Homo sapiens: one gene and its partner. The protein of the gene in region 1 interacts with the protein of each later gene in a pairwise test. Each region holds a gene or a part of one and is shown in the gene's direction. Other genes may lie near its edges.

Region 1 (11,868 bases):
TTGAACCCGGGAGGCAGAGCCTGCAAGTGAGCCGAGATTGTGCCACTGCACTCCAGCCTGGGTGACAGAGCAAGACTCCGTCTCAAAAACAACAACAACAACAACAAAAACAAAAAACAAACTATAGCGAATGTAAGCTTTGTGCTACTTAATAATTTAATAACCTAGATTTTCCAGGTCAGGGACAGGTTACAGTATTAAGCTCAGCTGTTATAAATTTAGGTCTCATGAATTCTAATGTTTTAGTACCCAAACATTATCTTTCATCCTTCCTTTCAGACCCCCAAATAGCACAAATTCTTTGTCTATTTGTTCCAAATTTTGGTTCTGAGAATATATTAACCATATATAAAAAGAGAAGACTTCTTAGTATTTACTTAGAAGTAGATACATTCCTCTTCTTTCAAACCAGAGCCTGAGAGAGTATTTCATTTTCCAAAGTTTTACAAATTATATAATATATAAACATATATGACAGTATGCATAAATCTATTTTTATATAAAATAGTATCTTTATACCACAAACATCCTCTCCCTTTTATGTCTCTAAATATTGGCTGATAATATAGATTCCTTTTCCCAAATTATCCTTTTAACATCATGGTTTGAGGGTAATTTTTCTTGATAGGTTTAAAAATAAACATGTTGTTCTGGTTTGGGGATTTAAAATTTTTTCAAAAGGACTGCTAATATTAAACATTGCGTGAGTTCAGAACGATATGCAAAATTGACAGTTAATTGATCACTGATTCATTCATCCATAGTAACATAATAAATCTTCCTTAGCAGTCTCTACACTTAATGACCTATGAGTATAGATGTGAAAATCTAGACATCAAGTATGTCACCTTTGATAAAGATAGTTGAGAAATAACTTGTTTTCTGTGTAGTTTACCTTAAGTCCACTCTTGGCATTTGTCCTCATATAAATTCTGTTTTTATTCTATGGCTTGGTGAGATAAATTGTTAGATCTCTAATTTAGACACAGAGTGCACCTACATAATAAATCCAGTTTTATTATTACAAATAAACATTCCAAAGCACAGAAAGACAAACATTGCATGTTCTCACCTATTTATGGAATCTAAAAATTCAAAACAATTGAACTAATGGGCAGAGAGAATAGAAGGATGGTTCCTAGAGCCTTGGAAAGGGAGTGGGAGCCTGGAGGGGGGCAACTGAGAATAGTTAACGTAATGGGTACACACAAAAAAAGAATGAATGAATAGGCATACTATTTGATAGCAGAACAGGGTGACTATAGTCAGTAATAACTTAATTGTACATTTTAAAATAACTATAAGAGTATAATTGAATTGTTTGTAACACAAGGATAAATGCTTGGATGGATACCCCATTCTCCGTGATTACTTAACGGATAATAATGTGATTATTTTACATTGCATACCTGTATCAAAACATCTCATGTACCCCATAAATATATGCACCTACTATATCTGCAAAAAAAAAAAACAAAAAACCAACATAACCAACATTCCACTCATTGAATGGGTATAAAAGACGCTTTAGGGTCGGAGGAGAAATTAGATGTAGTGAAACTGGAGAGTGATGTATCATTGTATTACATTTCTTCTGGAAAGCTCATTAGCCTAAGGGTCTTTTGTAAATGAGACATCTTTCGGGGTGGGGGATAATTATTCACATCCCTGGATTAGGTCTACATTCATTCACTCGTTCAACAACTATCTGAATGTCTACTGTGTGCCAGGCCTTTGCCAAGCACTGGGGATACAATGATCACCAAAAGAAAACAACCTATGCCCTTGCAGAATTTACAAATTCCTCAGTCATGGTTGTCAATTCTTGTAACAGAGCTGTTGATAACATAGGCAATGATAACTATTAATTGATTAATTGTATAGAAGGTTTAGGTGCTACTATTAAGAAAAATCTTACTGCTGAAACATCTTCTAGAGCAGAATTTCTCTGAATGTGGTACCTGAAATATTACTTTTACAGGACGTTGGTAAATGTTAACTGGAAGAGAGGTAAAATGAGTCAATTTATTTACTTTACGACTTCTTCGAGCCTTTTTAAGTTTCTACACATTTTGATTCTGCAGGAAGGCTGTATTTTTTTCACACTTTCTATGCTTCTTTGAGCATGAAACCTGAAATGAGTCACATCTTACTGGGCTTAATGGATCCATGGAACACACTTTGAGAAACATTATCTTAGAGTTACTAGTTGTTAAAGGAAAATTCCAAGAACTCGAATTTTCCTCTAAGTGGCTCAATAATGCAATTAATGAGTTGAACAATGCATTTAGCAAAACTTCCAATGAAAGTTTTATATACATGTCCTTTTTATAGGCCTCTATCTATAGAGCTGTATTATGCAAATGAAAATTTTATTAAGTTCACAGATAAAACTTGTTGCATTAACTGGCTCGTAGGGTTTACATAAAAAACAAATCTAATCAACAAAACAATAGTACTGGAAGATGGAGTTTTAGAAAGTCAATAAATAACTCATTTTCCTTTCTTGATTTAGAAACTTATTTTCAGAAATAAGAGATTTAGGCAGAGGGAGATCAAAATCTCAACTTTATTTCCGGTCAAAGCTGGATTGGAGGGTGTAACTCTGACTGTGGCAACATTTGACATCTTACTATTGAACTTTGAAATGAGAGAAACTTACCAGTCTCACCCACAGGGCAAGCCAGTGTGAATCCTGTGCAGGGAGCTGGATCCCACACAGAGACAGAGGAAGGGTGATCCTGAGCTGTAGATGCCCAGTTCCTTTGCCTAATCCTCCAATCAGTGTAGCTCTTTCCACCTTTGTAGAGAGGAGAAAAGGATGGAAATCAGAGGCTAGGAGTCTTTAGGAAAATGCTTTCTTATGGAAGCCTGAGAAAATAAGAAGGGGGTGCCCAACACTGGATACTTCAGGAAGCAAAAATTGGGCTTTTTAAAAAAAATCATTTTAAGAATCACAAATACTTTTTAGTCAGTTTGATTTTTATATGATTTTTTATATAGTAATATATTAATTAGAGTTTTCCAAATAATAATTACTTTTGGAACTTTTTATAAAAATGCATATTCCAGAACCACAACAGATCTATCATGTCAGAATATCTGAGAAGCAGCCTGGGACTTTTATTTTTATTTTTATTTTTTTGAGACAGAGTCTCACTCTGTTGCCCAGGCTGGAGTGCAGTGGTGCGATCTCAGCTCACTGCAATCTCTGCCTCCTGGGTTCAAGTGATTCTTCTGCCTCGGCCTTCTGAGAAGCTGGGATTACAGGTGCCCACTACACGCCTGGCTAATTTTTGTATTTTTAGTGGAGATGGGGTTTCACCATCTTGGCCAGGCTGGTCTTGAACTCCTGACCTCTTGATCCACCCGCCTTGGCCTCCCAAAGTGCTGGGATTACAGGGACTTTTAAATTTTTAAAAATTCCCCAGATAATCTTCATCATTGTTAAAGTGTAGAAAATACTAAACTGTAGAAATTGACCAAAAATATCTGCTTTATTTAGGAAACTGAAGTGGATCAGAACATTTAGATGATCAATTTTTTTTCTCAATTTTTTTTTGGATATTTTAGCCTTTGGAATAAAATATTCCAAATTTTATTTGGATATTTTTCTCAATTTTTATTTGGATATTTAGCATAAATTTATTTGGATAAAAATTTATCCAAATAAATTTTTATTTGGATATTTTATTTGGATATTTTAGCATTCTCAATTTTTATTTGGATATTTTAGATACGCGGTGAGAAGCTGGTGAGGCAATATTTTCCTGATGAGATGCCAGAACAATCACCATTGCTTTAATAGAATTTGTTCAGTGGCACTGGTTGTGTGGAAAATTGTTTTCTCCTCAGATTTATGGTTTTTTCTCAAAAATATGACAGAATACTGTGCTCTTAAAGGAAAGCTGCTTTTGTTTGATCCATTTGGCCTTAAGGGAGGGAATACATTTAATAAGCACTAATTAGATTAGTTTCAAGTTATTCTTCACTTGGGCTATAAGAATTGTTTAGTTGGCATGAAAGGGGATTAGATAATTTATTAACTGGCATAAATGACAATTATGGCTGAAAATCATAAATTATGGCATATGACTAAATAGAAAGAGAAAAATATGTTGCAAAGAATGATCATGGACATTGCTCATTTAAACATTCTTTAAAAGAATATGTGTACTATGAATTACCAGTTAGGTGTGCAGATTAGTAATAATATAGCTAATTTTCTATTTTTACTTTATTCAGAACTGAAAAACATCTAAAAATAGTGAGTTAAAGAACGTTTTTCTTTAACCAACACTTGAAAATATACTCCAATCGTTTCAGAGATAGTAAGATGTTTTTATGTTTATATAACTTTTTAATTTTGTTACATAAACTGTTGTTAGAAGTTGAAGATGGTTTCCTTAATTTTTATTTTGCAATCTTTATGGATTGAATTAAAAAATAATTTTTGGACATGCTAAATATTCTGAGAGGTGTTTAGAAGTAGATTCTATATCCTTAGAGAGCCTCTAGTTCCCACAGCAGCTTCTCCAGGGAAAAGCCCTTCTTCACTATATTCACCACAAATTAATGGCAGTTATTCATTTTTTAAAGCAGTACCAGAAGCTGATCTTAGCTTAAAGGGGAGGCTTCATCTCACATATGAGCAGCAAATTGATTTTCTCTTCATGGCACTGTATCGATAGGGTTAAGTATTTTGATAGAAGACCATGCTATTTAATATAAGTAGATTTTCAAGAAAATCACTATGCTAAATACTTCACTAGAAGGACTTTATCTATATACAGCAGCAACTGTGACCTGCTTTAGAGATGACATCATTGGGTGTCATGTGGCTCTTTATACGTTTCAGCCTCAGAAAGAGATAATCTGTGAAAGCCACAGAGCCTGATTTCTGCTGTGATAATCTTCAGCAGACCGAGGCTGGGGCGAGAATGAGGCAGACCTGTTTACATGGTGTGTGCAGTGCCTTGTGGAATTCTTAACTCTATTTTATTGTATTATTTTTAATCGAAAAGTAGATCAGATGATAGCATGAAGTGAATCGGCTGCTTTGGACTAATGGGATCTTCTTTTCTGCATTAAGATCAAGAACTTTTCTGGAATCCTCTGTTCTCCGAGTAGCCTTGTCTTCTCTGTGTGTTTTATCAATTTGAAGAACACTGGCAAAAATCAGCAAACTTCATCTCCCAAAAAGCTCTCGCTCTTTTTTGCCAATACTTGAAGATTTCTGCTCCAAAATCTACTTTGAGCTGCTTGAGCATGGTGGTTGATAACCGAAGGGCAAAAGCATCACTTATTTAGTGTGTGTTATAGAAATTTTTTAGACAACCTTACTAGCTAACCCAGGTGACCCTTTACGGATTTCTTTCAAAGCCAATTTGAATAAACAACTCTTCCCTCTCAAATGGGCAAGAGTAACTCTTCAGCACCATGGAGAGGTCCGGGCAGCGTGTTACAACGTGGGACTGTGACCAGGGCAAGCACTCTGACAGTGTAAGTTTTACAAATGTCTACCATCTATTTTAGGTGTATCATATTTTTACAAATGAAGAGAGAAAACTTCAAAGTCGAACTAAGTAACTTTAAATTTAAGCTGATGGCCTTCATTACATTTTTAAATTCAGAATTAAGCATTTAAGGTATATTGGAATGTTCATTTGAAAAAAATACTTTCTCATTGCATAGTTAGTATGTGGATATTTGGTGCTTTGAATTTTGAGAATCTAAGTTTGAGTGTTCTTTTTTGTAGTGCACCAAAACTAATTGCATTGCAGTGGACTTTGGAAATAGCATTTTAATATACACATGTAAATAGTTCCAAATGTACAATCTGTTGCCCTTTGTATGCACAAGACTCTCTTTGGAAAGTAGTTCCTGATTTGTACAGTTTGGGAAGATCAGTGTTAAACTTTTTCAATTTAGATTATACTTTCAGTTACCAAAAGAACAAATGTCTAGGTATTCTAATGTCAATACATGGGAGATATTTGATGACTTAAAAAATCTCAAATTTATTGGTATGAAATGTATAGAGTGGCAGCTTATTATAAGTAGAAATAACAGACAATTTTATAAAATTATATATGGGCTATTGAAATAGTACTTTTAGCATTATTGAAAATAATTAGTTTCAAAATGTTCAATTTAAATCTTCAAACCAGAAATAAAAAAAATGGTTTCTTCAAAAACATCTTTTAACTCCATCTTTTAGACTATCAAATTTGTAGTTCTATGATATTATTATATGACACAACCAACGAAGAAATAATACTTTGAATTACTACCCAGAATGACCCCAACAGATATTTTGATTAGCTATTCAAATTTTTTTCTAAGAGAACATATTGTCATTAAAAAGTAACTTTAACAAATCATGATTCTTTTCTCAGGCCAATTAAACTTAGTTTGGAACATTTATTTATGCAGAATCATTTATTTTAAAGCCTAATAAAATATATTTTTATATAATTGTATTATAAAATTTATTTCCTTTAGTAGTTTTCTTCATATTTAAAAACCAGTAGTAAATGCAATTTACTCAGCTTGACCTCCAATTCAAATATAATGGATTCTTTCTGTTATGGATAATTTCCAAGTGAATTACTGTTGCTTCTTAACTCTTCAGTAATTTGGCATTTGATTTTGGGATAAATGGTACTTACATTTTGACAGTGTATGAAGTGCATAATTTTAGAGGATGTAACAATTTTATATAAAGGAGACCTTAGTATACATTTTTGTCATCTTTGCTCAATAGATCCACTGATAATTTCCATAATTGATGTCAGTATTTAAAAGGCCTCAGTTTTTGAAAAGAATGAAAGGTAGATTTATGATTTCAGTTTTTTTAAGTTTCATTTCCCAAAATTTTATTATTCTGCTTTGGTTTAATAGGTAAGTAGGACTTTTCACACACCATTGCATGTACCTCTGTGATTTTAAACTTAAATTGTTCCCTTATGGCAAACTGTATCCATTTGCAGCCCCTGATGAACTTTGAACAAATCATTCTGGTTTATTAAATTGTACATTCTAATCCAGAAGAATCCAAGACTCATGTCATAAAACGCATCTGCTTGCTGTGAAATGGTGTCAGATTTTATTCTGATTCAGAAATTTATTTGATCTTTGTCTCTGTCTCTCTGAAGGATGTGACTCATTTGTGATATTGTCAGAAGTGTAACTTTTATATTTGCTGCTTTTTTTCCAAACATTTTAGTGATATATTTATAACTATTATCCAGCACACACATTTTTCTGTAGTTGAGATATTGTTGTCTATGTATTTATTTAAGCAGAAATTGTTGCTGTATGACAAACTACAAGCACATGTTTGCTTCTGTTTTGATAGCCTTTCAATCATTATTGAAACAGTCACCTGAACAGTAGAAAAATGTTCAGAGCTAAACTGTTAGATATTCACATTTCTTTTTCTTTCTTTCTTTTCTTTTTTAAATAACATTCTGGTGGTAGCAGATGTATGTGAACAATCTTAAATTTAGTTGAGTGACATTTTGCTTTTCTTGCCAATGTAAAAATATGCTCCCAGATCTCTTTACTGTGGTCCACCCACCCTTGCAAGGGATTTATAACCTTTGGCTACAAAGAATGTAGGGGCATATTTATTTATGAAAGCCACCCTAGTTAGGATGCTTTGCAGGGTGGCTGAATATAGAGGCAGCTAATTGGCGGGTGTGGTTTTTACTGCTGATTTTAACCCTTTTGGCACTAAGAAAGATTAGTTCATCTTGGAAATAGTTCTTACATCCAAGGTATTCAGTCTCATCTCTGTTGCATCAGTCTCCATCACATATTCCTGTAGAAGCAACTCCCCTAGCTACAGTCCCAACAGGAGAAGTTCCAGTAGGGAAGAGCCTGAAACTGAAATGTGTTGCAAGAAGGTCCTAAATGGTAGCTTCTTAGAGGGACATAGGGATCCTTGGGGTTATTTCAGTGAGCAGGATGCTGATTGATTCCAAATGGGTTCTAGGCTTGTTTAGTATGTCTCTAACACTACAAGGGGCACAGTGGACATTAGAGGCTCAAGAGAGGTACCCTAGCATCCCAGAGAATCACTATAGATTGATGATTCATCATAAAACTTTCTATCAAGTGATTTTTGTCCTCAGTTACTACATTTTACTGTTATTCCTTTCTCTGTCCCAATTTTATTTGCAAGGTACATTCCTACTTTGTATTACATGATGGACCTAACTAGGTATGACCTGACTGATTTGAGATTTACATTAAATATTACTAGAAATGATGGAGTAATCTTACCTTTTCCAGAGAATAGAAAAGAGCTTAGGGACTTTTCATGCAAGATATACACATTGCTGAAAGTCCAGGAATATTATCCAAATAGAAATGTCTGGATATGATGCTTTTCTCACTTTGACTAATTTTTCAAATTCCAGTCCCTCTAAATGGATTTTACTCTCCCCCATAAGTAAACTTAAGTTGCAGCATGTAAAGAACAAGTACACATCCAGGCAGCCAGTCCTAGGGACGAAGTCAGCCCACTTCCATCTTGCCTAATTTGTCCTGTAATTCTGACTCTCATCTTGGATTTTTCACACCATCTCATCTACACTTTTGGAGTTGACTCACTACATCACACAGTGCCTGATTCCATTAATAAGACCCATCTTGATGCAATACACATTTTGAATCCAACATTCTGGATTGACCTCAGTAGCATGCTTCTCTGGAATGCTGTTTTAGTGCTCGATCTCTGACTCCTGTGCACCACAATGGCAGGAAAAAAAAACCCCACTTCTCCACCGGTTTCATTTTGTGTGCTTTGAAACTGATGGAACTGTACTGTGTAGAATACAATGTTGGTATAGAAAGCATGTACATTGATTACCCATGATATAGTAAATATCTATTTTTAAAAGCAGTCAAAGACAGACTCAGCCTAATGATGTGACAGTAGATATAAAAGAATATAAAGCTTCAGTGCCTTAGTGCAATTCATACAAATTTGCTTATGTTTCATTTTTGTTAAGATTCCTGGAAATATAAATACAAGCATTGTATCTGGACTTTAGTATGGCTTGGAAGAATTTTTTCTGATGTCTTGGTGGAGAAGATAAAGACCTGTGAATGGAATAATAATTTGGAGCTAGAAACCAATTTACTGACCCCTGGGCAAGGGAATTTCTATCAGAATATGTGACTAGTAAGGGACCTCAACACTGAGCAATCAGTGGAAGATTTATGGAGAAATTAAAAAATAATATTTACAGGCTGGTGCAGTGGCTCACGACTGTAACCCCAGCACTTTGGGAGGCTGAGGTGGGTGGATCACCTGAGGTCAGGAGTTCGAGACCAGCCTGGGCAAAGTGATGAAACCCTGTCTACTAAAAATACAAAAATTAGTGGGGCATGGTGGCAGGTGCCTGTAATCCCAGCTACAGACTGAAGCAGGCGAATCACTTGAACCCACTGGGTGGAGGTTGCAATGAGTCGAGATCATACCATTGCACTCCAGCCTGGACAACGAGCAAAACTCCGTCTCAAAAGAAAAAAAAAAAAGGATGGAGCTATTTTTCAACGGTATAGGAATAAAGCATTGAGCTTCTCATCACCAGAAAGATGAGTCACACTGGATGACCCACATAAAAGATGCTATAGAAGGGGACTCCCTAATGGTGTGTGTGCATGTGTAGCAGAAGGGCTATGTGATCTCTAAGGTCTTTTCCAACTTAGACATGGATAAGGGTCATCAGTGCAGTGTCATCTCATTTAAAAAAGAAAGCAATAATTTCTTCATTCAACAAATATGTACTGGGTACATACTCTTGTGATTACAAGAACTGAGATGATTAATCCTCCCTGAGCTCCTTGAGAAACCACCCACTTGAAAAGGAGTAAGGGGAAAACTGGGAAATAAAACCCCAGGTAGGTTTTATTTTAAACCTCAGGAGTTGGGAAAAACCCAGGAGGGAGAGTAAGATGCATCACTTGGATCTATTTGAGAAGGGAAAACTAGGTTAAAGGAGAAAAAAGCAGAACTGGAGTTATAATTTATCTTTTCATTATCTCTAGCATAGAGATACTACAATGCATAAAAAAGAAATGAAAAATTTAGAATTCATTGATCACTAATCAATTCTATGATTCTATTTAGGACTGTCAAATCTCTAATGAGCTTTTTTGCTCTTTCGCCTGTATCCTTTCAATCTGTATAGCTATAGCTGCATCATATACCTTTAAAGATTCTGTTCCAATTGTCATCTATTCTTTTATAAATTGGGAGAAATCCTGAAGCTGTAGACCATCAATTCAAGGGGTCAATATCAAGTCAGCATAGATACTGGCCCTGCTCTGAATTTGAATCTTTGCTTGATTAATTTATCATACATGGTGAATCTAGGCTATGCTGTAACGAAGGGATCCCCAAAAGTATAATAGCTCACAAACAGCAGTTTTTTTCCTGTTTAGGCATCAGTACTGAAAGGGGAAGCAATACAGTGGGGTGACCCTTCTTCATATAGTCATTCAGAGAACCCAGGATGGTGGGAGCTATGCCATCTTCAACACATGGCTCTCAAGACCACCTTACAGTTGTCTCCCTTCTAGCAAAATAGAAAGGAAAAAGGGCACATGTGGGAGGTTCTAGTGGGCCCATTCTGAAAGAGGCACACATCACTCAACTCACATTCTTTTGACTGAACCCAGTCACATGCTGATATGGTTTGGCTGTGTCCCCACCCAAATCTCACCTTGAATTGTAGCTCCCATAATCCCCATGTGTCATGAGAGGACCCAATGGAGGGTAATTGAATCATGGGAGCAGGTTTTTCCTGTGCTGTTCTCATGATAGTGAGCAAGTCTCATGAGATCTGATGGTTTTATAAAGGGCAGTTCCCCTGCACACACGCTCTTGCCTGCTGCCATGTAAGGTGTGCCTTTGCTCCTCCTTCACCTTCTGCCATGATTGTGAGGCCTCCCCAGCCATGTGAAACTGTGAGTTCATGAAACCTCTTTTTCTTTATAAATTACCCAGTCTCGGATATTTCTTCATAGCAGTATGAAAATGGACTAATACACATGCCATACCTAACTGCAAGGGAGGCTGAGAAATATCCTACAGGTTACATAGAAATAAGAAAATAAAATAGATTTTAGAGCACTTAGTACTTTCTGCCATACCTGGACTTCTGTTCTACTGTGGGAAGACTTCTTCCTCCAAACCCACAGTTCCTGTTGCTGTAAACCTGGTATAGCCTGCTAGATCTGCTTGATGTTAATTTTACTGCAGCCTTGACCATTGCTAATTTCAGTCTTCAGGTTGCAAACTATAGAACTTGACCCTAGGTAATTTAAGCTGAAAAATAATTTATTAGAAACACAACAGATAACTCACTAAATTGACAGGAAGGCTAGAGAATCAGGCTCAGAAAAAGGGAACTAAAGGAAGTTGGTTGGCCAGAAACCCATGGAAAGGCACACACAAGAGGCAACATTATTGGAATGCTGTTGGCCTCAGTACATTGGATGCAATGGTTACACAGTTCAAAAATACCCCTCACTTTTCTGAGACACTTCTTCCAGATCCAAAGTCCTGAACTGGGCCATGCCATTGACTGGTTTAGATCATGCATTCAGGCCTGATTGCTAGAATTCAGGGAAGGGAATTTCTTCTATAATGGGGGGTAGAGTCCTGGTGCTTACTGTAATATGCATAGCAGTGTATTCTGTAATTATGAGAGGGTCTCAGATAAACTAAAAAAGAAAAGCCAAACTCCAGTGTCCCTGATGTTGTAAAATGCCCCTGATGTCACATTAGATCTTCTGATGACCATGGTGATTCTTGTTGACTCCAGTTGGCCACATGCCTAGACTATGCTT
Region 2 (11,779 bases), on another chromosome or scaffold:
AGAAGTTTTATATTTTAATGAAGTCCAATTTATTGTTTTTTCCTTTTATGGTCATTGCTTTTTGTGTCCTGCTTAAGAAATCTTTGCCTATCCCAAGATTTCAAATATATATTCTTAATTTTCTTCTAGAAGCTTAATATTATAGTTTTTGCTTTACATTTAAGGCTCTGATCTTGTTTTATGGCTTAGCATATGGTTTATTCCATGGGCTCTTGAAAAGAGTATTGTTTTGCTTTCATGGTACAGTTCTACAAATGTCAGTGATGATAGTGTTGTTCAGATCTTCTTTGGCCTTGCTAACTTTTTATCTACTTGCTTTCTCAATTATTGAGAGACAGGTGTGGTTACCTATGACTATGTAACAGACTACTCCAAAACTTACTAGTGTTTGTTTATTTATTATAAAGGATTTATCATTACCAAATCTGTTTTTGGTGATTAACAAGCCACCCTGAAACTTGATAGCTTAAGATAATTTGTTATTGTCTTAATAATTACCAGTTCTGTGGTTTTATTGGGCTGGATTGAGCAGTATCTTGCTTGGGGTCTTTATTGTGATTGCAGTCAGATGAAGGCTGCGGCCGAAATCATGTGAGGCTGCCTCTGGACTGGTCTTCTAAGCTGATATCTTGCCCCTTTCCTGGCGTCTCAGTTGGAATGGCAGGAACAGCTGGGGCTGGCCAGGCCCGCTCCCCGACCTGCTCTGTCTGCTAGCCTGGGCTGTCTGACTGCTTTCTTTGTTGCCAAACCACTTTCCTGCTTTACTTCCCAGCATTGTCATTCCAGCCCCACAACACTAGCAGTTGCTTTCAGTCCTCTGTGTCTGTAATGATCATTTTTCCTTTGCTTGCTGTGTTTCTGCCTTGTATGCTCTGGTTGAAATCTTGTTTTTATACTTTCACATGCAATTCAGTGACCACATCTTCTCTCGGAATCTATTTTTGGTCCCAGTCAGAATTAATTGCTTCCTTCTCCATGTGCCTATGAGTAAACCTTTGTTAGTGTACTTACTGTTTTTCGCTATTATTAGAGTTATGTGCATATTTATCTCTTCCTGGTGGGCAAAGGCTGTTTTACCTTTGTATGCCAAGTCCTGTGCCGTGCATCTAGAGGTTTTGAGGACAAAGCACAGGAGCACAAGGTCTGGATTCCATTCCTGGATTATAGTAATCAATTATTTGGCCGTTGGCAAGTCTTTTACTCTATTTGAACCTTAGAATCTTCATTGGTAAAACAGAGGCAGTGATATTTGGCTCACTGGGATGCACTGAGAATTCGATGAGGTGACCTCTGGGAATGCCTGGCGTCATACTTTTTACACAGCAGGTGATCAGTCAGTGTTTGAGAAATTATAAGTGTTTTGAGTTGAATGTTTCTCTTCTGTGTTTATGAAGGGACAGGAGACAATGATCAGATGCTTTTTGTGTGAGAACGTTAGGAGTTAACATTGGTTGAATGTGCACCGTGCTCCAGTAACTGTTCAAAGCTCATCGTCCATTTCTTAGCTTACTTGCGTGACTTGATGTTTGCGAGGTTCTGGAACAGCTGCATCACATAGTAACTGTTCACTGAAATAAAAAATAGCATCCTTATTACAGCCCTACGTAGTAGATGGTGCCATTACTCCTATTCTGTAGGTGAGTCTACTGAGGCACACAGGGGTTAAGCAAGCTTTCAAAGAGCTATTTAATAGTATGTGGCAAGGATTTGAACCCAGATAGCTTTTACTCTCAACCATTACCCTATAGCCGCCTCACAGCCATGTTTCCTTGGCTCTTAAACCTTGCAGCTGATTCTCATTCATTTTTAGGAAGATGAGGCTTCCATTTTCATTAAAGGGTCATGAACCATATGTGCATAAAATGCGAATTTGCTGGTTTGCTAGAAACATAGTTGAGAACCTGGGATATAGATGAGGCACCAATTTTATTACACTGATGTTTCTGAATGTTTTGGGAGTTCACAGTAGTTGAGGTTAGACATTGTAAATGAGCTGGGCAAACGGGTTGGGGACTCTAATGGAGACCTGCCACTGTCACTAAGCCTCATTAGAAAATTACAGCATTGATGAAGATTCTTACTTGGATTTGTCACTCACGTGTATTTTATTTTTCTGACCAGCAGACTGGCCATTGTTTGTGCATTGTTTTAATTTAAATAGGTCCGTAAGAATTAACTTTAAATGGACAGTAGTGATAGTTGTGTGATAAATTGATGTGATTTGAGTCCCTACTTTTGCTGAACTCTTCTTGTGGGGGAAAAAATATTTGCAGTTATTAATGAAAAATCAAAGGTGAAAAAACAGGTGTTCTTCCTTTCATAACAGGTGTTCTTCCTTTTTTTGCTTTTCTTAGGGATTGAGGAATGATTTGAAAGCAGCCTTGGATAAGATTGATCAGCAGTACCTCAATGAAATCGTCGGCGGTCAGGAGCCTGGAGAGGAAGACACACAGAATGATCTGAAAGTTCATGAGGAAAACACCACAATTGAAGAGTTAGAGGTAATCTCTACACCAAGCCCAGCACATCCCTGGCACCCTTCTTTTTCCTCTGGAGCAGATGACTGAGTCGGGCAGATTGTTGAGGGCAGAGCACACTGTTGTCCTTGGTCTTTTGTTTATTTACTCCTCGCTTTTATTTATTTACTCCCCTTTTTCTCATCCTCCACTCACATTCCCCTACTTCCTGCCTTCAAAAGGAACCCATTCTAATATGTTGGATATGCATCTTTCTGTTTGTTGGTGCTCTTGTGACCTGCAGTGTTTTGTGAGCATGTATTTTTGATTTACATAAATGATGTTATGCTGTGAAATTCTTTATTCCGTGTTTTACTTTTCTTTTTTTCAGTTAGCACTATGTTTTTAAGAGCTATCCTTGATGCTCTGTGTACACTGAATCCTTTGCTTTTAATTGCTACATAGGATTCCATGTGTTACGCCATTCACTGCATTTGACTTTTTGTTCTCCGGTAATGATGGACAGCTAGATTGTTCCCAGCTCTCTCCTACCACAAACAGCTTCCTGATGAACAGTCTTGTGCATAACCACGATGGCCTAGCAAAGTGGGATTGTGGGATTTATATATGTATATTTAACTTGTCTAAGTACTGCCAAGTTACTCTCTGGAATGGCTGTCCTAGTCTACACCCAGCAGTGTGAGGGTCCCCTGTCTTTCCAGCCCTGCCAACGCTTGGCAATATCTTGCTGTCTGATTTTTGCTATAGTGCTGCTTTTGGAGTGTTAGTGTATAATCTTAATTAAAAAGCAATTTTGTATCATGTAAGTAGCATGTAAAATAAATATGGCTTAAAGTTCTTAATGCTTAAGGAAACATAAACTTATTTTTCTGTTTCCTTTAATTCCTGGCTCTTGTATGTGTAGCTGTCCCTCTGAATAAGATCATAGTTGAGGAAGACGTCATTTTAATCCCCTGCCTCCTCCAATACCTGTCTATGGTCCCTAAATTTTACTAAAATAATTGGTATGGGCAACCAGTTGTGGGCTTTTTTTTTTTTTTTTTTCCTATTGGTGTATTTATTTGTTTATTTTTAAAAAACAGCTTTATTGAGATATTGACATACCATACAGTTGACTGATTTAACATATACAAATCAGTGGTTTTTAGTATATTCACATGGTGGTGCAACCATTATCACAATCTAATTTTAGAACATTTTGGTTCCCCCAAAAAGAAATCTCACATTCATTACCCCCTCTTGACTTTTCATAAAAGGTAACATGCTCTCCAAATTTAAGTGGCAAATCCGTGTTTTTTGTTTTTGGTTTCTTATCTAGAAATTCCATCCGATTTTTAAGTAAAAATTGAACAGCATATGTGACCAAGAGCCATGTTTAGACTGGTGTTGGTAATATATATGTTTAGTTGTTGCTCTGTATTAATGAACAGAAGCATTGTTTCTTTTTCTTCAGGCGCTTGGAGAGTCCTTAGGGAAAGGCGATGATCATAAAGACATGGACATCATCACCAAATTCCTGAAGGTGCGTGTCTTAGGCGAGGGGATGAGGATGCCTTGGATCCTTATGAACTATTCTTATATTTTTGGATTACCAAGGGTTAAAGGCTGGAACGGGAAAGCCTCAATACACATTTCTCACACATACATGATGTTTATGATATCACTATGCACTTGATGTAGCAGTTAGTAAGAGAAAATGCATATTTACTTTTCTTGTGGCTTTTTTTTTTTTTTGGAAACAGAGTCTTGCTCTTGTCTCTCAAGCTGGGGTGCAGTGGTGTAATCTCAGCTCACTGCAACCTCCACCTCCCGGGTTCAAGTGATTCTCCTGCCTCAGCCTCCTGAGTAGCTGGGATTACAGGCACCCACCACCATGCTTGGCTAATTTTTGTATTTTTAGTAGAGATCGGGTTTCACCATGTTGGCCACGCTGATCTTGAACTCCTGACCTCAGGTGATCCACCCACCTCAGCCTCCCAAAGTGCTGGGATTACAGGCATGAGCCACTGCGACTGGTCTGCTTTTCTTGTGGCATATTTTTTAAAGCTGGCTCATTAATGTAAACACATAGAAAAGAATCACAACAGCAGAATTAATAAGAAGTTGGTAGAGTTGCTTATTTTTTTCTTGAGGCAGAGTCTTGCTCTGTCGCCCAGGCTGGAATGCAGTGGCACCATCTCGGCTTGCTGCAACCACTGCTTCCTGGATTCAAGCGATTATCCTGCCTCAGCCTCTCAAGTAGCATGCCACCACACCCGACTAGTTTTTGTATTTTTTATTTATTTATTTATTTATTTTTTTAGTAAAGAGACAGGTTTTCACCCTGTTGGCCAGGCTGGTCTTGAACTCCTGACCACAAGTGATCCACCTGCCTCGGCCTCCCAAAATCCTGGGATTATAGGCATGAGCCACAGTGTCCCGCTGAATTTCTAGACAACCCAAGGAAGAAGAGGGTTCTAGCTTTTTTTTTTTTTTTTTTTTTTTTTTAAGCAAAAGTGTCTTTCTCTGTTGCCTAGGCTGGAGTGCAGTGGTGTCATCCTAGCTCGCTGTAACCTTGAAATCCTGGGCTCATCAACCTCCCGAGTGGTAGGGCATGTACCACCATGCCCAGCTAATTTTTTAGTTTTTTTTGTAACCTTACAGAGAGTGCTCAATTCTTCAGTTCTACAAATAGCTGCCTATTTTTGCTGACTTGCTGATTCCAACCGTCTTCTCAACATTTCTCTCTTTAGTGGTCTAGATAGAGTATGAACAAATCCCAGATATTTTATTGTTTATTCACAAACTGTGTTCAGACCAAGAGATTTACATGCAAGGAATGCTTTTTCTTGTGTGTACAGTTTAGATACAACATATTATTCATCAAGATTCTGAATATATTGAGGATACAGCATGGAAGTAGATAGGGCATAAGAATTAGTATGAACTAGAATTTCCTCTTTGAGTGATGGCCTCTTCTTTTTTAGGATATGCATAGATGATGCCCCTAGAGGACAACATCCTCCTCAGCCTTCTCTGTTTCCTACTTCCAGGAAGGGTGCCCTTTATACAGTTAAACCCAAGGGGCACTGAGGTAGTTATCTAGGGGTGGGGGTGGAGTGGGAATGCTGGGTCTTGGCTTCTTTATTTCTGTTTCTCTTTCTCCTTCCTCTCCTTTAGTCAGGTGCTTTCATGGTTTTTAAACTTAATCATGGTCTCTACAGCATATGTAGAAAGTCCAGTTTTCTTGTAACTCGTAACTTGTTGAATTTTATGTATATAATACAAATACAAATACAAGTTTATTTCCTCTCAAATAGTTAACTATGAAACTTGATAGTTGTTTTCTGAGGGAAGCAAATTATCCTGAGCTAGGAATAGATGTAGACTAGGGAAGTTGGTGACTTGCCAAAGGTACTACTTCAAAGCATTATCATGACCAATAAGCAGAACTAGCTTATTCTATATTATTTGGTGGCATTTTAATCAAGACATTTACTTTAAGGATGATTGTATTCTGTTTTTGTGTGCTAGAGAGCATTTAGATGTACTGAACCACTGGGTGGCATTGTAGTCTAAGTTTACCCATCCTTTCAACAGTTTCTTCTTGGCGTTTGGGCTAAAGAATTGAATGCCAGAGAAGATTATGTGAAACGCAGTGTGCAGGGTAAACTGAACAGTGCGACCCAGAAACAGACCGAGTCCTACCTAAGACCACTTTTTAGAAAGCTACGGAAAAGGGTGAGGTTTCTTGGAAAATACTTTTTTTAACTGACTTTAAAAATACAGTATAAATTTAGAATAAATGCAGTCTGTTTTTTCCCTATACATCTATACATAGTAGCTTCCAAAATTTCTTATTTATTTTTTTCAGAATCTTCCTGCTGATATTAAAGAATCAATAACGGATATTATTAAATTCATGTTGCAGAGAGAATACGTGAAGGTACATTCCCATGCTGTTCTTTGAAATTGTTAAGAGTATATCTAGGTTATGTACGTAATATAATGTTCATTTGGGATAGGAGGATTTTACATAGTAGATTTAAGAATAAATGTGAGATGAGTTAGTAGTAAAAAGCGTTTTATTTTCTATTGTATTTGCCAGCTTTACTGTTAGGCAGTGAATAACAAACCTGACTAAGAAAATACAGACCTCATCTGTATGCTCTTGGTCATTTTTAAAATAGGCCTAAAGGTTCTTCAGAGCATGAACTTTATATAGGCAGTGTTCATTTTATGAATTTCAAAGTTTTGTAAATGGCTGATTATGTCTTGGAACAAATTTTCCCATAGAAACAACGTTGTATAGATGAGTTTCCCAGGATGGTCATAAAAGCCCCTTTAATCTGTAATATAGCTGAACTGTTGCACTGATGGTACAGTGGAATTTAACCACTCTTTGTAATTGTTTCTATGGGGAAATGGTTCAAGCAAGGCTTCCAGGACTCATCTCTCCCATTTCAGCGTTGCAGACCCCTGCAGTGGAAGTCTCTCCTCCCTTGCCCCAGTGTCTATACTCCTGAATGGGCTCTGGGAGGCAGCGGTGAGGGAAAGGGTGCTGGTGTCCAGGGCTCCCTGAGATAGAGTTTAGAAAGGGATGAGAGGAGGACTGTCAGTTGGTACAGGGGAACAAGAAGGGAAGGGCCCAATGCACCAGTAGTGGCAATGAAGAAAGAACAGAGTTTGAGGGAGGCTTCTTGTGGCCGTGCCTCCCAAGGCACTAGGAGTAGAGCATTTCAGTGCAGCAACCCCAGTGCCAGTGCCAGAGCGGTAGGGAACTCGGAATGACATTGCTTATCCAGTGCTGTATCTGTATACTGACGTAACAAGGGACTGCTGGCATTCCTGAGTGACTGGATGATTTACGTGATTAGAGCCTTAGGCTAAAGAGGTTCCTGCAGTGATTTTACTCCTTTTAAGAGCCAGCCAGTTTTCTCAAAGAAAATATTTTTTGTCTTACAGTTATAAATGTGCTTCTTAGTTTCTGTCAGTTGCATGATTCTTACTAAGGATGGTTGCATTGGCATGGATGGATAAGGTCACCATCACTGCAGGAAGAATGCACATCACTCCCTGCTAGAATGGATGCCTTTCCTCTTACTGCTTTTTCTCGTGATCACATATCAGAACTAAGTGCAAGTGCAAGCTTATTTTGTATAAACTACAGAAAGAACCAAGAAGCTTTAATAACCTGTTTAGACAGTTTCTTTGAAATTTGGGGGAAACTAAATATTGCAGTTTTTATCAGTTAAGATCCAATGTTAAAGTTTATACACATGAAAATTAGTGATAAAAATGTACATAGGCCCTTTTTAAATTAAGCTTTATAAAACCGGTGAGCAGAGCAAGTTCACATTTATCTTTAGGGTAGAAAATGATCTTCCAGCTACCCTATCTGTAGTATCTGATTTTAAAAAAATTGACTCTCCCTATCAATCTCATAGGTGTCTGATTTTTTTAAATTAAAATCTCCTTGAGGCCTGGCTTTATAAGCTTCTCTTAACCCTTGAGGTCCTTTAGAATTTATTTGCTTTATGTTTTTCTTGTTCTTCCTCACAGCTAGCCAGGCTTGGTTAGGAAAAAAAGCCTTTTGTCTTCATTGGTTTCTGTCTTCATTTTTTGTGGCTGTTCTTTAACGGTTCTTGGCAGGTAGGGGGTGGGGTGGGGGGCAAAGTGGAGCGATCTCATCCTTCAGCTATTCGACTGGAGGGCCAGTGTTTCCTCTCTGTTTACACATCTGTTAAAGACCCTGTGTGGTCGTCGGCACATACTGAGCCCCCACTTCCTTCAGAGAGCCACAGTGCTGTGTAGGGAGTGGATATTGTTTAGGGTTGGACGATGAAAAACTACTTAGCCCCTGTCTTCTACATGACCCCCTGTGGAGAAGACTGGGTCTAAAGGAGACCAAAACTAGAATTTTCATCAGTGCATTGAAGTGCCTACCTGGTAATTCCAGATCTGCAACATATTAATTTCCAGCATACAAAGGCTGCAAAGGAATGTTTGCCTTTTTTTTACTCACAACCTAGCTTTGGTTTCTGTTTTTTCCATGGACATTGGTGGTCCTGGGCAGGGCAGTCTGTTACCCTGTATTTTAATCTGTTTTGTTTGAATAACAGTCATGGTAATATTTTCCATGTGCCCAAAAGGTGGACGAAAATTACATCATAAAGGGCTGTGAAATACTTTCAGTAAGAATTTGAGCCAGTACAACATTTTCGCCTTTCTGATTTCTTCTTACACTTTCCTTTCAGGCAAATGATGCTTATCTTCAGATGGCCATTGGAAATGCGCCTTGGCCCATCGGTGTCACTATGGTTGGTATCCATGCCAGAACTGGCAGAGAAAAGATTTTTTCCAAGCATGTTGCACATGTTTTAAATGACGAAACTCAGCGGAAATATATTCAGGTAAGCAGTTTGGAGAGCCGGGAATTGCCCTGGAAGTGAATATTCTCTAATTCCCAAAACTCTAAGTCTGGAAAGCAGGCAGAGAATTACAGCAAATAGAACATAGCGTGATAGGATGGAAGTCCCCTCTGGATAAGCACTGACACTGAAGCCACCTTCACTGAATAAAGTAAAAACCTTTCAACTTTCATATATGTTGGAAGACAAGGGTGAAGTATTGTGCTTTAATTACCTTAGCACTGAAATAAAATGATTGCAGTTTGCTTTTTTTTTTTAAGACGTGTATTAGGAAGTAAAAGTTGAGCTCATCAGAGAAATGTGGGAGTTTAGTGAAGAGCAACAAACTTAGAGTATTTTACAATAAATCCTGCTTTGTTGCTTTCAAGGTAAATCTAACATCTACTGGGTTCAAGATGTATGGAGAGTAAAGACTTGGCTTTAATGTACGTAGCACGTAACAACACTTCTTTAGTCATGTGAATAGGTCTAAAGTGCCGATGGTTTGTTTTCTTCAAGTTATACATGCTTCACATAAACTTGTTGGTACTGTTTTTGGGCTAAACTTTTCTCCCTAGTGGGAAGAAAATCGACTATAATGTAGTGTTTGCCAGATTGTCATAAATCCCAGATTGTGTCTGTAAAATGACTTGCTGGATGATAGTTCTAAAACTTGACAGTGATACTCCGGAAGTTTACTTAAAATTTGAAGTTCACTTAAAATGCATAAAGTGCTTTCAGATTTTGTGCCAGAGAACAGTCATTACCATATTCATGAAATATCTTTTTGTTTTTATTTCACTTCCAAGTGCTGAATGTTAATTCGTGTCATGCTTTATGCCTTAGTCACATATAATAGCTTTTTAAAATATGATTTCAATCGGACTCCCTCATGTGAACTGTATACAGAGTTCAAATATACTTCTGGAAATTCAACCACATTTCCATTTTTTAATAACCACCAGTGAGTGTATTAAAGGCAGAAGCTTTTAGCTGAAAAAAAAAAAAGTTGCTTAGCTTTAACAATAGAAAACAGGTTCCAAAGATTAAATTTGCTAATTGTGTTCATCTATATTGTGGCCAAAGGTATAGTGTATAAAAGTTCATATGATTAAATCAATCGTCTGAAAGACATTTCTTATAAACAGTAATGTGATTTTCACCTCCCCGAGGAGTGATTTTTTTTTAAGTATACCTAGCATTTATTCAAGAATTCTGGTTTATTTTGGAAGCTATGTAATGACCTGTCCTTACTCCATTGTTCTTCCTTTTTAACTGTTCTCTTCCCATTAAAAAAAATTCTTCTTTTGCCCCCTAGGTGATTAGAGAAAATTGATGAGCATACTGTATTTGAAATTTAGCTAGGTGTTTGAGGCAGACCCAGTGGTATTCTTGTGGATAGGGCAAATCAGGCTGGACTCATAGCTCATTGACAGAGGGAAGCCATGGAGCATTAAATAATGGACTCGTGTCTCTTAGGGTAGATGCTAGAGATGTATGTCAGGGGTCTTAGGGACCTCAGTGCTGTCCTGTCGAACCTTTTAATGACTGACTTGGATGGCTATACCGAAGGATGGGTTTATCAGGTTTGCAGACAGCAAGAAACTAGAAGGGATGGAGTGTATGTTAAGGTGGAAAAGAAACTGCTATTCTAGAAGTTCTTGACAGACGAGAGAGAAGGGCAGAGTCTAAAAATACAATATTTAGGAAGGAAGGATTACCATAAGAAAATTGGACCCATATACCCTTTTGCTTAAGCTTATAATTTGGGCAGTGGATATAAAAAAGAATTAGAGGCTGAGCATGGTGGCTCACACCTGTAATCCCAACACTTCGAGTGGCTGTGGCGGGAAGATTGCCTGAGGCCAGGAGTTTAAGACTAGCCTGGGCAACATAGCGAGACCCCATTTCTACAAAAAATAGAAACTAGCCAGGCATGGTTGTGTGTGCCTGTAGTCCTAGCTACCGGAGAGGTTGAGGCAGAAGGATCTCTTCAGCCTGGGAGTTCAAGGTTGCAGTGATTTGTGATTGCATCACTGCACTTCAGACAGAGCAAGACCCTGTCAAAAAAAAAAAAAAAAAAAAAAAAAAGAAAGAATTTAGTGGACTAAATTTAGTGTAATAAAATTTGTAGTATGATATGGCCACCTAATAACTTAGTGTAGGTTCTCCAGGGCAAGAACATAGTTCAGTATTGTACCCCTAGAATCTAGAACAATATCTGACTCATGGTGGGTGCTTAATAAATATTTGCTAATTGAATGAATTCATGATAGAGCAAGAGAGGTGATAATAATTGCTCTTTTCCTAGTCCTCGAGAAAGGAGACTCTTGGTGAGAATCTGGGCAAGAGTTCTAGATCAGCGGTCCCTGACATCTTTGGCACCAGGGACTGGTTTCATGGAAGAGCATTTTTCCATGGATCGGGGAGGTCAGGGGGATGGTTTCAGGATGAAACTGTTCCACCTCAGATCATCAGGTGTTAGTAAGGAGCATGCAACCTCGATCCCTCACATGTGCTGTTCACAATAGGGTTTGCGCTCCTGTGAGAATCTAATGCCAGGACAGAGGAGAGCAGAGCTTAGGTGCTAATTCTCTTGCCCTCTGCTCACCTCTGCTGTGTGGCCCATTGCCTGACTGGCCACGGACTAGTGCTGGCCTGTGGCCCAGGGGTTGGGGACTTCCTGCTATAGAAAATGGTAGAACTTTCTGATGGAAGAGGATTAAACTTGTTTTATACAATTGGACAGATTTTTAGTTAGTGTAAGACAAAGCTTTTTCAGAAAACGTTTTTATTTTGAAATAATTATAGACTCACAAGAAGTTGCAAAAAATAGTAAGAAGCTTTTTAATAGGCAGAGTTGTCCCAAGGTGGGAGATGGAGGAAGACACCCACCTCTTGATGTCTGGAGGC

The links.
Region 2: the proteins of SCHIP1 (region 1) and PRPF18 interact in binary tests that used the Homo sapiens proteins (3 or more experiments, as listed by UniProt).

What each region holds. Positions count from the first base shown.
Region 1 is NC_000003.12:159,268,382-159,280,249, forward strand, and holds the start of SCHIP1 (schwannomin-interacting protein 1), read left to right. Parts: upstream 1-4,862; 5' UTR 4,863-5,439; coding exon 5,440-5,502; intron 5,503-11,868.
Region 2 is NC_000010.11:13,607,685-13,619,463, forward strand, and holds part of PRPF18 (pre-mRNA-splicing factor 18), read left to right. Parts: intron 1-2,354; coding exon 2,355-2,501; intron 2,502-3,930; coding exon 3,931-3,999; intron 4,000-6,056; coding exon 6,057-6,197; intron 6,198-6,330; coding exon 6,331-6,402; intron 6,403-8,713; coding exon 8,714-8,869; intron 8,870-9,255; coding exon of another isoform or gene 9,256-9,297; exon of another isoform or gene 9,298-9,312; intron 9,313-11,779.